Linked DNA regions of Homo sapiens: region 1 is linked to region 2. Evidence: fine-mapped expression QTL. A gene starts in region 2. The other region holds a variant in brackets. All regions are shown on one strand. Distances are between the middles of the regions.

Region 1 (2,902 bases), 22 kb after region 2:
AGAGAATTCATGATCAGCATCTGAGAAACACTTAGTTGGCTATGTTTTTGAAACATGAAACCAAGAATTATTTCCTAATCTGAATAAAGCCTAAATTCTGAAACTAGCCTAGAGACAGCTGATTTATGAGTTAAGTCTCTAAACCAACAATGACACACAGTAGGTGTTTTTTACAAGCTCCCTAAGAATTCTGTCACTAACTGCAGGACAAAGAACAGCTAGGCTAAACATTTCAGAGAAGATACAGAAGATGGAAAGAAATCTAAAGAAGGCTTCTTTCAATTACCCTTAAATTCAAAGTGAACACATTATGAGGTCATTAAACACTTGAGCATTACTGAATGGAATTCAGGAAAATCTAATACAGACTACCTCAAAAATACATGCTTGTAGGAACACTGACCCCATTTCTCTGGAGTCTCTTTCCCATTTAAAAAAAAAATGCTTGTTTCATTTTAAGAAAGCTCAACACATCAAAATGACTTTAGATAACATGAATTGGGAGTAATCTATAATATCGACAGATTTATGCCCTTCAAAAAGTGACTGGTCACAGGGTTCTTTTACACAGTGAGGAACTCTTGGATTTATAATATGTAACTTGATATAGAAAAATCAATATTTACATAAAGCCTTTTCACAAATGTGTCTAATGTAAGAAACAAGCTTCACCTAGATTTGAAAGAGGATGGCTAAAAAGACTCATATGTAGAAGCTCTGAGTCTACTGTTGAGTTCATACTTTAAAACTTGAAATGAAAGGTTTCCTTCCCTACCAAATTCCTCCTTTCTCCATTCGGCATACACTGACCCTCCCTCCCGTTTCCAATGAGGCTGAACTAACGTGGCTTTTGAATTCTCACTTCATTGTGTGTAGTCAAGGGCATCAGCAAATTCCTGGGAACAGGCCAGGGTGGGTCAGCCCAATGTTGCTGCCAAGTCCCAGGGGCAAGCTCTGGGTGCTTTCTCATCATGGAGCCTTACTCCTCAAAAAGTGGGTTTTGCTGGTTTGCGACTGACACTTATTTATTTGCACTTTACACTTGTTACAGTGTAGGTACCCCAGGTCCCAGCAATATTACTCAGTACATTATGAAACAGCAGCAGAACAAATTAGGTCTGGTGGCCTTGATCCTTAGACATTTAAGCCTATGAGACAAAAAGGGAGGCAAGGCGGCTCTACTTCCTTCTTCACTGCTCTCTTTTTTTGGAGACGGAGTCTTGCTCTGTCGCCCAGGCTGGAGTGCAG[G/T]GGCGCGATCTCTGCTCACTGCAAGCTCTGCCTCCCAGGTTCACGACATTCTCCTGCCTCAGCCTCCCGAGTAGCTGGGACTACAGGCGCCCGCCAACGCGCCCGGCTAATTTTTTTTTTTTTTGTATTTTTAGTAGAGACGGGGTTTCACCACATTAGCCAGGATAGTCTCGATCTCCTGACCTCGTGATCCACCCGCCTCGGCCTCCCAAAGTGCTGGGATTACAGGCGTGAGCCACTGCGCCCGGCCACTGCTTTCTCTTTAAGCTCCTTTAGAACAAAGCTGCTGTCAAGGCTCACTTTCATCAGCCCCTAGGACATCCCACCAGAATAGCTCTCCACCTCCCTGCCTGTTCTAGTCCCCAAGTCCCCACTGCCTGCAGCTGGTTCTACCTTAGACATGTGACAGAAATCGCCAATTTAGAAAGTGGGACTCTTACCCCCACCATGGGCTAAATGACAAACTTATCCAAAATTCAGAGTGAGGAAGTTTCTGTTCCATTTAATAGACAAAATTAGCTTCTTTGAAAATTATGACTGATGGTGGTCTAAAGACTTAAAATGAGCTACGAAGGTGACATCACCCCACAACTAAATGTAATGAGAGCCATCAATAAAATTTACCCATATGAAGTCAAGCAAAATGTACAATGCTTGGGGAAATAAACTGCCTGCAGTACCTAGGGTGAGCTTCATCAGTGCTTGCTTTGGATCCAAGATGTAATGAGATTCTTCTTTCACGTCAACAATTGCCGCAAATTCTTTCACCTGAGTGGAGCTCGGAGCACCCAGTCTCTCTGCATATAACCAAAACAAATTTGAATCCAAAAGGTAGATGTTGAGAGTCTTGTTGGTTCTGCAGCTCAGGCCTGTGAAGTTTGTGCTAGTCATGTCCACTTCTGGAAAGAGATACCTGTTCTCCTCAATGTGAGGAACGGAGCTTGGGGCATCAACCTCACATTTCTTCTCAAGGGAAGAAAATGCAACAGTAGGGGCTTCAAAGACACCTTGTTCAGAGTCGATGAAGCCTGACACACCCCTGCTTATGGTCCTGCAACATGCAGTGTAGTAGCTGAAGGGGCTATAGGAAGTTAAAAAATTGCTGCATTCTATGCTGTCTGATGCCACATGATAAAAGGTCTGCTCCTTGAGGTAGAAAGAATCCAGAGCTGCTGCCATTTCAAAAAAGCTGCACTGTGGCACGCTGACCGAGCTCGGCTTCATGCCCCCGGAGGTCTGGTTGACACAGAGTTCACAGACGTTGTGGGTCCTGGAGAAGGAGTGCCACTGGGGCAGCACCACAGTGTTGCAGCAGGGGGACGCTGTGATCGTTGGCGGGTCTGGCAGCTGTGCCGGCACTTCCAGGGCCAGGGACTCCAGCACTGGAGCATCCACCCGCCGCAGGTGCTGAAGGAGACGCTCCACCACCTGGTCCCCATGACAGTTGTTGTACTCCAAGGCCACTTCGGTGATCTGAAATACAGGGCAGAGTTGGTGAAGGGCTTGGGGATGACTGAGGGACTAGCACCCCGTTAGCCACGTTTCACTTTCTGTAATTTCAGTTATCCATGGTCAACTCCGGTTCAAAAATACTAAATGGAAAATTCCAGAAATAAACAAGTCGTAAGTTTTAAACTACATGTCGCTCTGAGTA
Region 2 (2,902 bases):
GGCGATCAGGGAGGGCCCTCCTGAGGAAGGGGCACTTAAGCTGAGATCGGGAAGATGAAGTAGAAGAGTTCCAGCTGCAGGGAGCCACATAGGCAAAGGCCTGGCGGTGGGAAAGGCTTGGTGCACTGGGCGCAGGGAAGAAAGCCCAGCGAGGCTGAGTGGAGGGAGTGAGGGCCTGGCCACCTCAGCCTCGTGAGCCCAACCCGCCATGCTCTTCCAGAGGCTTCTGCTTGAGAATGGGAAAGAAGTTTCCAGCAAATAAGGCCCCCGTTCCCAGGAGGAGGTCCCAGCTCGCCCTGCCCCCTCCTGTCTTCTCAAGTCCCCTGGGCCACAGAAGCCTTGAGGGACCCACCCTCACCCCTTCTGTGGGCCCCAGGGCTGGGGTGTCCTCTCGCCGATGGCCTTCTTGGGGTGGATGAGTGGAGATTACTCCAATAACTGGAGCCTCTGTCTTCCCAGGTAGACAGGCCTGGCCTCAAAACCCTCTCTCCATCAGGAGCAGGCTGTGGGACTTCAGCTCTTTGGAGCCTCAGGTTCCTCATCTGTAAAATGGGAAGATTCTTTCTTCCGGAGTCATCTTAATAAAATGTGTTGGGCTGTTTATACAGGGCAGGCATTTGGTGGGGGCCAAACCACCGGGTAATTATGCTAAAAATAACTATGATTATAGGTGGCAGAGGGGTGCAAATGCCTCACAGCCTCATCCCGCAGAGGAATGAGAGCTTCGTCAGGGCCGGGACCTTGTCTGGCTCGTGGCTGCTCCCACGACGACTGGCGTGGCAGGCACGTGGTCAGTGTTCCGCCATCGACTGACTGGGCGGATGAATGATACATAAATGAATTCGCGAACGACTGATGCCCAGCTTCCTCCCGAAGCAAGGTCATTCACCTCAGCGGTCGCGCCTCTCCCCTGCCCCTGCCCCGGATTCCCCGCCGCTCTCAGCTCTCGAGGAGTATGCAGCACTCTTCCGTGCAGCGTGCCTCAGTTTCCTCCGCTGTAAGCAGGCGGGACCAAGGCAGCCTGCCGGGGTCAGGATGAGGCTGGCAGAGGAAGGGCGCCTGTAGTGGGGCCCCGTACCCACGGGCGCCCAATCCGCGCTCGCCAGGGCCGAGCCCGCCCGCCGCGCGCAGCCCCCGCCCCACCGCCTGCCGGCCCCGAGCACACGTGACTCCGCCCCGGCCCGCCCCGCCCCGCCGTCCCAGCGCGGGCTCCCATTGGCCTTTCTGGGAGGCCCCGTCCCCAGCCGGGGAGGAGCCGGGCCCCGCCCGCCGCAGCGCGGGGCTCCTGCGTCCCGAGTGCGCGGCGGCCGGACCGGGCGGGCGGAGCCGGGCCCGCGGGGCTGCTGCGGGGCGATCGGGCCGGGCCGCTGCCGCGCCATGGTGAGCCGGGCGGGGCAGGCCGCGCGCTCGGGCCGGGCGGGGGCGCCGGGGCCCGGGGGCGGGAAGGGGGAGGCCAGGACGAGGAGGGGCGCGCGCGGCGGCGGGGCCGGGCCGGGGTCTGCGGGCGGGGGAGGGGCGGCCCGGCGGGCGCGGCTCGGGGGAGGGTCCGTTCCAGGGGCCGCGCCCGCGGGCTGGGGTTCTTTGTCAGCGGCGCTGCGGCGAGATCCGGACAAAGGAGGCGGCGGGGGGCGGAGGCCGCTTTGTGGGGATCGCGGGGCGCTCGCCCCCGCCCGTGCAGCCCCCGCCCGTCCTCAGCTACGCTCCCGCCTTCCCCCGGCATTTCGGGGTTCTTCAAAATTCTGGGAGCTCCGGGGAGGGCTCCGGGGATAGGGGTCCAGGTGACGTCCGGCGCCCGTCTCGCGGGTAGGGAAACTGAGGCCGGGCCGCAGCGTTCGGCGCCCGGTTCCGTGGGCAGCGGCTGCGCGGCGTGGGCATGCCTAGCTCCCCTGGTCCCCGTCCCACACCCCGCCTCCGTCGGGCCGATTCGAGCTACCTCCCCAGCTGCCGTCCCCTCTCCAGCTGTCGCCCCCTGGGCCGAGCCCCCTCCTCCCTGGAGCCTCGCTTTGCTCCTCCGTGGAGTGGGGGAGACGCCGGCGCCGCCGGGCAGGGTGGAACGGGAGGGTGCGCGGAGCGCGCCTGGCACCGCGCCTGCCACGCCGCCCGCGCTCAGCACTCGGGAGCCGCCGGGGCGCTGTCACCCCTAAGTCCCCAGCACCCAGCCCAGGTCGCCCAGCCCGCCCCAGCGAGGGCCACACTGGGGTTCACCTGTCCGCGGCCCCTCAGGCACGCGGGAGAGGAGGTAGGGAGAATGTGGCATTTTAGAGTCAGGGTCGAAATGCGGGATTTTGGATGCAGGTTGCCTGGGTTTGAATCCCTGCGCGTCTACTTTTGAGCTGTGTGACCTTGGGCAATGGACTTAACTTCTCTGAGCCACCAATTTCTGTATCTGCCAAGAGGGAACAGTAATAGCTCAACTGCCCTGTTGTCTTGAGGCAGAAAGGAGACATCTGCGTGAGCTGTTTATCTCAGTGTCTGGCACATATAATTGCCACCAACTTTCTCCGGCATCTACAAGCAAAGTTGTTTGGCCAAACAGGCCAACCCTGGGGCAGCCTGTGAAAATGACCAGCGGGTGATTCACAGGGTGGGGGCATGAGCCTCTGGCCTGGCCCGAGGAAGACCCCGACTGACCTTGGGGCAGTCCCGGTTCAGAGCTCTGCGGGCTCCCGCTTCCTCTTTTGCCACTGGGGAACCTAGGGGATTCTGGAGCGAGTTTCCTCTTCTGAGGATGGGGGTGTCATGGGTGGGGGTGGAGGATGAGATAACACTGGCCAGAGAGCTGGGCACAGCCCCATCAGTGTCAGTCCCACTGGCATCCGGCCGTTCTTGGTCCTGGCTTCTGGAGGGCTGGGGCCTTGTGTGATGCGTCCTTGTGTCCCACTGGCTGCTGGAGGCCCAGGGC

What was found. PIP is the estimated chance that this variant, and not a neighbour inherited with it, causes the effect.
Region 1: its variant is the best candidate, but not a certain one, in a credible set for the expression of SNN in whole blood (INTERVAL, PIP 0.59).

The regions. Positions count from the first base shown.
Region 1 is chr16:11,689,362-11,692,263 of GRCh38, forward strand. TXNDC11 (thioredoxin domain containing 11) reads right to left here. Exons shown (of 12, transcript NM_015914.7): 8 at 1,929-2,721. Among named protein-coding and RNA genes, the nearest start is that of SNN, 22 kb to the left of the region's middle. The variant G/T (reference allele first, on the strand shown) is at 1,249.
Region 2 is chr16:11,667,161-11,670,062 of GRCh38, forward strand. SNN (stannin) reads left to right here and starts at 1,295. Exons shown (of 2, transcript NM_003498.6): 1 at 1,295-1,380. RefSeq lists a silencer at 968-1,387 and an enhancer at 2,495-2,594.